2 separate regions of the Homo sapiens genome follow, and region 1 is linked to region 2. Evidence: fine-mapped expression QTL. A gene starts in region 2. The other region holds a variant in brackets. All regions are shown on one strand. Distances are from middle to middle.

Evidence for each region. PIP is the estimated chance that this variant, and not a neighbour inherited with it, causes the effect.
Region 1: its variant is the best candidate, but not a certain one, in a credible set for the expression of KDM7A in whole blood (TOPMed, PIP 0.64).

Annotation. Positions count from the first base shown.
Region 1 is chr7:140,223,720-140,229,090 of GRCh38, reverse strand. No RefSeq gene overlaps it. Among named protein-coding and RNA genes, the nearest start is that of KDM7A-DT, 49 kb to the right of the region's middle. The variant C/G (reference allele first, on the strand shown) is at 3,336.
Region 2 is chr7:140,174,436-140,179,806 of GRCh38, reverse strand. KDM7A (lysine demethylase 7A) reads left to right here and starts at 2,824. Exons shown (of 20, transcript NM_030647.2): 1 at 2,824-3,063. The coding sequence starts at 2,870. KDM7A-DT (KDM7A divergent transcript) reads right to left here and starts at 2,546. Exons shown (of 1, transcript NR_024451.1): 1 at 167-2,546. RefSeq lists silencers at 2,416-2,845, 2,886-2,985, 3,626-3,805, 3,816-4,095 and an enhancer at 2,268-3,191.

The DNA of each region.
Region 1 (5,371 bases), 49 kb before region 2:
AGCCTCCCAAATAGCTGGGATTACAGGCTCCCGCCGCCACACCCAGCTAATTTTTTTTTTTAATTTTATTTTGAGACGGAGTCTCGCTCTGTCACACAGGCTGAAGTGCAATGGCGTGATCTTGGCTCACTGCAACCTCCGCCTCCCGGGTTCAAGTGATTCTCCTGCCTCAGCCTCCTGAGTAGCTGGGATTACAGGCGCACGCCACCATGCCCGGCTAATTTTTATATTTTTAGTAGAGACGGGGTTTCACCATGTTAGTCAGGCTGGTCTCGAACTCCTGACCTCGTGATCCGTCCACCTCAGCCTCCCAAAGTGCTGGGATTACAGGCGTGAGCCATTGTGCCTGGCTTTTTTTTTTTTTTTTTTTTTTTTTTTTTGTATTTTTTAGTAGATACAGGGTTTCGCCGTGTTGGCCAGGCTGGTCTCTAACTCCTGACCTCAGGTGATCCCTACATCTTGGCCTCCCAAATTGCTGAGATTGCAGGCGTAAGCCACCGCGCCTGGCCTCTTGTCACTTTTTATTACAAATAAGAAGCTTAAACGTTCTCTATATTGCTGTGGCAAGTACTACAAGAGTCTTAGGCAGCAGATCGTGAAGAACTGTTTGAGAAATGTTTTAGGGTTTTGCTTTTCTCTGATTAGAACCATCTCCAAACGGTGTTGGAACTGGAGTTCCTGAGTAAGATGCTTTCAGACAAAATATACAATGTCTTTCTCTAGAGATCCACTCCTAGGCTTTTTGTTCCTTTCTTTCCCACTGTAGAACATTGCAAAAACAAGCTGCTGAGCCCTCAGCTGGGTGCTTGGGTGTCCCTGAGTTTAAAATGGAATGGAATATAGGTTTCTGTTTTTGCTTCCGTTGTTATGGCATGGGTAACGTAACTTGACTTTGTCTTTAAAAATTTCACAAAAGAAATCAACATTATTTACTAAATCACTTTTTAAACGTGTTTTAAAAGTGCTGCTTTTGGGTTGAAGGGTGTGCTCCCGAAGACCACGCTGAGTTAAGAGGCTAATAGGAATCGTGTGAGTGAGGCAGAGTGGGATGAGGGCCGTTCCAGAGACAGATGTGCCCTGGGAGACCAGGAGGAAAGCAGGCAGGTTGAGCTGTCCTGTTGGTTGTTAGCAGGACAGAACCAGGAGGATGCGGAAGCATTGGTAGCTGAGATGCACGGCACAGACCCAATGGGGTCCTCTCTCTTTCTTTTGTTTTTTGAGACAGAGTCTCACTCCGTCACCCAGGCTGGAGTGGAATAGCGTGATCTCGGCCACTGCAACGTCTGCCTGCCGGGTTCAAGCGATGCTGCTGCCTCAGCCTCCCAAGTAGCTGGGATTACAGGCACCTGCCACCATGCTGGTTAATTTTTTTTGTATTTTTAGTAGAGATGGGGTTTCACCATGTTGGCCAAGCTGGTCTCGAACTCCTGACCTCAGGTGATCCACCACCTCGGCCTCCCAAAGTGCTGGGATTACAGGTGTGAGCCACCATGGCTAGCTTTTTTTTTTTTTTTTTTTAATAGAGACAGGGTCTTCCTGTGTTGCCCAGGCTGGTCTTGAACTCCTGGGCTCAAGGGATCCTTCCGACTTGACCTCCCAAAGAGTTAGGATTACAGGTGTGAGCCACCACGCCCAGCCCAGCGGGGGCCTCTCTTTTGAGTCAAAGGCGGTTTGGAGGTCTAGCACAGCCCTGCTTTGCTCTGGACATGATTCAATGAAAGAAGATAAAAAGTAACACCTGGTAATAGTAAAATAGTAACAAATGGTATTTATTAAATACCTACTGTGTTCTAGGCACTGTGCTAGGAGATTCACATGCTTTATGTCATGTAAGCCTATGATGTGGGTTACTATTATTAGTCCCACTTTACAGGTAGGGAAACAGCCACAGGGAGGTTAAGTTGTCCATTACCCAACTAGGAAGTGGCCCCATGAGCAGAGGACTCAAGCTTCTAGTGTACTCAGCCACTGGAGGATGATCCTTTTGTGCTGAGATTCAGTTTACGAGTTCTATTATGGGGGAAGTTGGGGGCTTCCTGGTCTCAATCTATCTAAGGCCAGCTTGTCCAGCCCATGGGCTGTCTGCGGCCCAGGACAGCTTTGAATGTGGCCCAACACAAATTTGTTAACTTTCTTTAAATGTCATGAGACTTTTTTGTGTGATTTTATTTATTTATTTTAGTTCATCAGCTATTGTTAATATATTTTATGTGTGGTCCAAGACAATTCTTCTTTTTCCAGTATGGCCCAGGGAAGCCAAAAGATCGGACACCCCTGATCTAAGAAGAAGGAGGAAAGGACTGGCTGGATCAATGGGAGAGGGAGAAGAGATAAGGCTCAATTAGTGAGCAGGGATCTGTGCAAAGGAATCAGGACATAGGCACAGCAGCACCACAGGGTGACAGGTGTTAATGTGGGGGCTGAGGGGAGGGAGCAAGAGTACCTTTCAGTGGGTGTGTGTTCAGGGAGAAATGAAGAGAGTTGGGGCTGTTGCAGAGTTGAATTGGGAGCTCTGGGAGCAAGTGTACCAGTCAGTATTATAGGAAGGCAGCCATGTTAAGACACAGGACCTGCAGGGTGGCCAATTTGTTTTAAAGTATATGACAATAACACTCCACAGTTTTAACAGTTTGTTGGGCTAAATTGTGTTCCTCCTACTGCTACTGCCCCCCGCATTCATATGCTGAAGTCCTTACCCCCAGTACCTCAGAATGTGACCTTATTTGGAAATATGGTCATTGCACATGTAATTAGTTAAGATGAGTTCATACTGGAGTAGGGTGGTCCCTGATCCATTAGGCCAGGTGCAGTGGCTCCTGCCTATAATCCTAGAACTTTGGGAGGCTGGGGTAGGAGGATCGATTGGGCCTAGGAGTTTGAGACCAGCCTGGGCAACATAGTGAGACACTATCTCTACAGAGAATACAAAATTTTTAACAAACTAGCCAGGTGCAGTGTCATATGCCTGTGGCCCCAGCTTAACTCAGGAGGCTGAGGTAGGAGGATTGCTTGAGCCAGGGAGGTCAAGGCTACAGTGAGCTATGATTGCACCACTATACCCCAGCCTGGGTAACAGAATGAGACCCCATCTCAAAAATAAAAATAAAAACTAAAGAAGGAAATTTGGGCACAGATATGCACACAGGGAGAATGGCATGTGAAGATGAAGGCAGAGATCAGGGTGCTTCTTCTACAAGCCAAGGAACCCCATAGATTGCTGGCAACCACCAGCAGCTCAGGGAGATGCCTGGAACAGATTCTCACTCACAGCCCTCAGAGGGAACCCATCCTGCTGACATCCGGATCTCGGCCGTCCAGCCTCCAGAACTGTGAGA[C/G]AATGCTTTACTGTTGTTTAAGCTGCCTAGTCTGTAGTACTTTGTTACTTTGCTCTAGCAAAGTAATACACATGGCAACGTATCTGATGACAGCTCTAGCTGTGATAGAGCCCTGAGGTTTTTGAAACCTGCCTTTGTAGAGGCTGAGAAAATCTGTTTTCTTTCATTTTCCTTTTCTTTTTTTTTTTTTTTTGGTTTCTTTTTTTGAGACAGGGTCTTACTCTGTTGCAAAGACTGGAGTGCAGCAGCGTGATCATGACTTATTGCTGCCTCTACCTCCCAGGTTTCTCAGTAGCTGGGGCTGCAGACACACACCACCTGCCTGGCTAATTTTTTAAATTTTTTTTAGAGATGAGGTCTCACTATGTTGTCCAGGCTGGTCTTGAACTCTTGGGCTCAAGTTATCTGCCCACCTTGGTCTCCCAAATTGTTGGGATTACAGGTGTGAGCCACCATGCCTGGTCAGGACTTGTTTTATATAAAATTATCTCTAACAGAATGCTACATGTACATAGCTATAAAAAGCAAAGTAGAATAAATACATAAAAAGTATAATGAAAAATTACAATTGCGCTTAGCCTCTTGTTCCCCAAGGCTGTCTTCCTGAAGGCCGGCACTGCCAACTCTGTAGCCATTTTTCTTGTATTTTCCACCATTTTTCTAAACAATATGCTTACATTACTATTTCTTTTCTTTCCTTTTTTTTTTTTTTTTTTTTTGAGATGGAGTCTCACTCTGTTGCCCAGACTGGAGTACAGTGGGGTGACCTCAGCTCACTGCAGCCTCTGCCTCCCAGGTTCAAGCAATTCTCCTGCCTCAGCCTCCCAAGTAGCTGGGATCACAAGTGTGCGCCACTATACTTAGCTAATTTTTGTATTTTTAGTAGAGATGGGGTTCCACCATGTTGGCCAGGCTGGTCTCGAACTCCTGACCTCAGGTGATCTGCTTGCCTCAGCCTCCCAAAGTGCTGGAATTACAGGTGTGCTGGAATTACAGGTGTGAGCCACCACGTCCAGCCACATTACTGTTTCTTGATTTTCGACTTTGCACACTACTTGTTAACTTCCAATCATGGTAGCGGAGGAAACGCTCTCCTTCCTATACCCCCTTCTGTATCCTTGTATTCCAGTACTTTATGAAATAAATGACAACTGTTCACATTATTAGGAGGAGGTATGTAGTGTTAGGAGGGGGCATGGCTCACCTCTGAGCCATGTAGTGTTCTAGGACAACACTCTGTGATTAAACAACCCTTTTCTCCTTCTGGACTTAATGGCAGTTTCTTTTTTGCATTTGTCTGATTTTCTCTGAACCTATGTGTTCCCCCATTGCCCTAGCACCTCTGCCACACTGCAATCAACAGTATTTTTTGACTCTGAATGCTTTATTTTTTTTTCCCTAGGTGGTCCCTCTGGCCTCCTCCTCCAACGTGGACAGAGGTGCCTTAGGCTGCAGCGTGGCCCAGCTCCTGAGAGGGAGGAGGAGGTGTCTTTTGAAAGTGGCCAGCAGTTTTCTGGGTTTGGAGGTGGATGTTTCAGTTCACTGTGGGGGTGAAGTCCTTTGGTTTCATGAAGGCCTCCGGGACAGGCAGCTGTGCTCTCTTGTTGTTCCCCTCTGAGGGGCTTCACAGTTCTGGCTTGGGCGTGTTAATCAGGCATTCAGGCTGAGGCAGTCCTGAGTCCAGGGGAGATGTTGTCTGAAGGTGTGAACGGCTGAGCTCACTCCTGTGGAAACTGATGTTTTTGTCAGTGGTTGTTTTTTTGGCAGGGTGTGGGAGTTGTTGCTGAAAGTTGCTTGCAGGAGATAACGGAGTGGCTGAGGGTGGAAGGTGCATTTTCTCCATCCGTGCACAGAATCAGCACTGCTGGGTCACGCAGGGTGTAGGGATCTAGAGCACCAACGGAGCCCCGGACCTGGAGCCTGGCAGCCCCATGGGCACTGTGTCTTAGAGGTAGTGGCCCCAAGGCTCGTATTGGTGGACCTCAAGCCACAGAAGACAGGCCAGAGGAAGGATACAATGATGACTGGGACTGATT
Region 2 (5,371 bases):
CAGGTACCTGTAACCCCAGCTACTCAGGAGGCTGAGGCCTAAGAATTGCTTGAACCCGGGAGGTGGAGGTTGCAGTGAGCTGAGATCGCACCACTGCACTCCAGCCTGAGCGACAGACCCAGACTTCATCTCAAAAAAAAAAAAGAGAAAAATATCTGAGACTGTGTAATTTGTAAAGGAAAGAAGTTTAATTGGCTCATGGAAGGCAGGCTGTACAGGAAGCATGATGCTGGCATCTGCTCAGCTTCTGGGGAGGCCTCGGGAAACTTACAATCATGGCTGAAGACAAATTGCATCATATAGCCGGGGCAGGAGCAAAAGAGAGAGGGAGGAGGTGCCACATATTTTTCAATGACCAGATTTCTTAAGAACTCACTCATTACCACGGGGACAATACAAAGTGGATGGTACTAAACCATTCATAAGAAATCCACCCCCATGATCCAGTCACCTCCCACCAGTCCCCACCTCCAACATTGGGGATTACAATTCAACATGAGATTTGGGTGGGGACACAGATCCAAGTCATATGGATAACCAATCTCTCATTGTTGCTGCTGCCTCCTGCTCTGCTGGGCTTCCTTCTTCATACCCCTGCCTAGTCCCTCCATGTTAACATAGCAAGTCCAGGTGGCCCCCAGAGGACATCCCACAACAGGCTGCTTTGGTGCTCTTTAGCCAGACTCCAACAAGACAGCTTTGCATGCCTTCTCTTCACTGCTGTATTGTCTCGACAACACACACCTTCAACAAAGTACATTTAAAAATACATTGTCTTTTTGCTCCATGTAAAACCTCTGTGAGATAATTAAGGCATTACTAGCCATATTTTTTCTTTCAACAGATCATCAGTGATCTAGTTCAGGAGAAATGGAGTGACTGGCCCGAGGTCACAGATTATAGAAAGCAGGACCTGAGTGCATGGGTCTTTCCACTCCAGCAATATGTGATGCCTATGCCAAAATTACAGTACCTTTTTTTCTCCAGTAGAAATATGTTTCAAGCTTAATCAGTGTGTGGTCAACTAATTTCCAGCCTTTCCTTTTCCCGCTATATATATGCCAAACAGTGATGTGATAGAAAAACGAATAGTTGCAGAATTGAGACACTTAAAAACTTCAGTTACAGCTCTAATATATGAGACTTCAGTCAAGTTACTAGCTTTCCTCAACTATAAAAAGGAGATTAGGCAGGACTTGGTGGCTCACGCCTGTAATCCCAGCACTTTGAGAGGCCGAGGCGGGCGGATCACTTGAGGTCAGGAGTTCAAACAGCCTGGCCAACATGGTGAAACCCCGTCTCTATTAAAAATACAAAATTACCCGGGTGCGGTGGCGTGCGCCTGTAATCCCAGCTACTTGGGAGGCTGAGGCAGGAGGATCCCTCGAACCCGGGAGGTGGAAGTTGCAATGAGCCGAGATCACAGCACTGCACTGCACTCCAGCGCGGGCAACAAGAACGAAACTCCGTTTCAAAGAAAGAAAGGAAAGAAAGGAAAGGAAAGGAAAGGAAAGGGAGGGAGGGAAGGAAGGAAGGAAGGAAGGAAGGAAGGAAGGAAGGAAGGAAGGAAAGAAAGGAAAGAAAGAAAGAAATGGAGAATTAGATCAGCGACTCTTTGCCTGGGGGTGGGTGACAGAACAACACTTCTTCCTCCCCTAACAAAAATTACCTATGGAGCTGTGAGGGCTTTCCCCACTGATAGAAATGCCAGCAGAAATTCAGCTACAAATACTCAATCCAATAATCCTTAACATCACTTCCAATCCACAGTTATGATTCCAACGCAATCTTTTCTATACAGTATTTGTCAGCTGTTTTTATTCTTCAGTTTATCATCTTATATTTGGCTCTCAATTTCACCCATAAATTATTGATGGCTTATTATACGCCAAGTACCCTGCGCTCCGCTTTTTGTGGTATCCCTCTTCGGAGCGAGAAGTCACTTAGAATTTTACCCCATCTTCCCCACTTGGGAATCGGAAGGGTTCATAGCTAAGTTTTGTTATTTATAAGCACGCCGGCTCTTCTCTATCCCTCTCTCCACCAACCCCATTTCAAGGTTGGTCCCTCCCAGCGGACGACAGTGATGAATTCCTCTTGGGGACAGCCCTCCCGCAACTAACGGTGGCTCCATCGACGCTCTGGTCTCCTTGCTGCTCGCTGGGAATTCGGGTGGGACGTTTTCCAAAGTTTGGATTCCACGGCACATTCCTCCCTCGGAAAGGCACAACCGGCTCGGCGTGTCAGCTCAGCTGGACTCACGCCGGTGCGGGGCCGCAGCTCCGGTTCTCGCTGGGCGGCTGCGGAGGGCTGGGCGATTCTCTCAGCGTCGCGAGGCGACCCGGGCAGCAGCAAACTTCTCCGCTTCCCCTCTTCGGGACGCGGCACCTCTTCTGCCCTTGAGCACTCCGCAGGAACTTCCCCCGGCCTCGGCTCTCGCTCCGAAATAACCGAGCCAGCTCCTCGCACGCTCCCGCCGTCCTCCTCCGGCTGCGGCCGCGCGCCCGCCGCCACCGCCACCACCGCGCGTGTCCTCACGGGGCCTCAGCTCCCTCCGCCCCCGCAGCCGCCTGCGTGCCCTTCAACAGCTCCCTCCGCCCGGCCGTCGCGGAGAGGAGCGGGGAGCGCGCGCCGGCGCCAGAGACGTGCGCGAGACGCACGGCCCCGCGCCGAGCGCCGGAAGCAGCCGAGTCTGGGCCTCGCGCGTCGCGCGCGCCTCCTCCCCCTCCGCCAGCCGCCGCGGCCTCGCGCGCGCGCACTGAGGCGCCGCCGCCGCCGCGGCTGCTGCAGGAGGCGGCGCTGGCTGGCGGCTGCGCTCGCTCCAGTCGGCGAGCGGAGTAGCGAGCGAGCGTGTGTGTGTTTTTTAAAGATGGCCGGAGCGGCGGCGGCGGTGGCCGCGGGAGCAGCAGCTGGAGCCGCCGCGGCAGCCGTGTCGGTGGCGGCTCCCGGCCGGGCCTCGGCGCCTCCGCCGCCCCCGCCCGTGTACTGTGTGTGCCGGCAGCCGTACGACGTGAACCGCTTCATGATCGAGTGCGATATCTGCAAGGACTGGTTCCACGGCAGGTAAATAAACCCCCTCCAGCCCCGCAGCCGCCACCGCCGGCCACCGACCAACCGCCGCCGCCGCCGGCCGCCCGCGCCTCCCTCGGGCCGGGCCGCCGCGCCGCGCCCAGCTTTCAGGGGGCCCCGGTGCCTAGCCCCCCGGCCGGGCAGTGGGGCGCGCGGTGCCCCGGGTTCGCCGGGCGGGCTCCAGAGGGGAGCCGGTGGGCTCGCCTGGCCCGGGCGAAGAGTCGCCACAACAAACACGAACAAAGAGGGCCGGCGGATAAGTTGGCAGGGGGAGCCTGGGGCGAGGGGACGCGGCCGGGCGGGCGCGGCGGGGGCGTCGGGCGGAGCGCCGGCCGGGTCCGCAGCCCCTCGCCAGCCCGGGCCGCCGCCGCCCCGCCCCGCCCCGCCGCGCCCGGGGCTCCGGCCGGAGTCGCCGGCCGCCCCGCCGCTCTGCCCGGCCGGCCGACGCGCCTGCCTTCCTTCCGGGCGGCGATGGGGTCGCCCCGGCCCCGCGTCTCCTCCGCGCCGCGGGTCCCTGTCGCGCCCCCTTCCCCGTCTTTATCAAACTTCCTGGGCCAGTGGGACGGGGGCAGCGGCGGGCCGGAGAGGCGACCGCGCCAGCCAGCTCGGCGGGGCTCCGCGGAGTAAACAGAGCAACAGATGAGGCACTCGCTCTCGGGGACTTGAAAGGTGCCGGGGAAGTTGGGGCCGGGCCCCCGGCGGGCGGCAGGTTGACCCGGGTCGCGGTCCTGGGCCCCCGCACACACCCGGGTCGCCGGGACTGGGGCAGATGGAGTGGGTTGCGGCGGCCCGAAGGGAACGCTTCTCCGGACCCCCTGCGTTGCCCTCGCGCCGCGGCTTAAACTTTACAAAGAGTGCAGTTGCCATCGCTCGAAGCTGGCGACACCGGGACCGCCTGCGGCTGTGCCCGGGCGCCGGTGCCGGCGAACTTGAGTCGGCCGGGCGGACGCTGCGGGGCCGGCTGGCGGCGGCGGCGGACGCTGCCCTCTGATTCAGCCGCCGCCGCGCTCCGGGTTTGACGTTTGAGAGCTCGGGCCGCCTCCGCAGCCAGGCCGCCGACTCGTGTGTTTTGTAATCAAAGTGTGAGGCTAATAAAGGGCGGCGCCACAGCCTCTTGACTCCGGCGTGGGAGGGATTCACAGGCATTTAAACAAAGAAACTAGTTGGGGTTGGGCTCCCAAAGTCCTTATTTGGGTGTTGTGGCAAAGCCTGCGGTCACCTTTAGTTGAAGCCGGTTTCCCGGGCCCCGTTTGGTGTTGTCTCTTGGCGAGAGCACGCTCACGAGTAATAGCAGATATGGTGACTGTGATTGTAGGAAGTGTCTTTTGATTGACAGCAGGACATTTAAATACAGCCTCCGCTCCCCCCCTCCCCAATTTTACAGAAACACTACAAGACCAGGCCAGATGTCTTAGTCTCCCTCTACTGGTCCAGGGAGAGAAAACCATGTAAATCACAATGTTCTTTGCAGTGTTTAGTGCTAGGTGTAGTTAAGTTTTACTTAATTTTCAAGTACAGTTTTACTTAATCAGTTTTCAGGCTAGCCGATTCTCACAACAGAAAACAAGACACAGTAAATTATCACTTTAAAAGAAAGGCAGCGTCCTCGTTTCGTATAATCTTTAGCAGTCTTGTATATCCAATTCTATTTCCACATCCTGTTTCCATAACATATTCTACGCAACTAGAATAAAGATTATCCGAACATTTAGGTTCTATATAGAATAAAATCAGAATCCCTGGTGATTATGTAAATGCTTATTTTTTTTCAAAGAACTATTTTTTGAAATTTGAGGCGGTTTAAACTGCATAAAAATTTGTCTCGCCAGGCTTGGTGGCTCACGCCTGTAATCCCAGCACTTTGGGAGGCTGAGGCGGGTGGATCACGAGGTAAAGAGATCGAGACCATCCTGGCTAACATGGTGAAACCCCAACATGGTGAAACCCCGTCTCTACTAAAAATACAAAAATTAGCTGGGCGTGGTGGTGCATGTCTGTAACCCTAGCTACTTGGGAGGCTGAGGCAGGAGAATCTTTTGAACCCGGGAAGCGGAGGTTGCAGTGAGCCGAGATCGCGCCACTGCACTCCAGCCTGGCGACAGAGTGAGACTCCGTCTCAAAAAAAAAGAAAAAAGAAACTTGTCTCATTATGCAATGCGGATTTGATAGGCTACCAAATTTTAGACTAGAATTGTATTTATCTTAATTTAGGTCACTTAACACTATAACCATGAAAAGCCCCAGGTATTTGATGGAGAATTTTGTAATACATGTAAGTATACACTTGTAAATAGGGAAATAG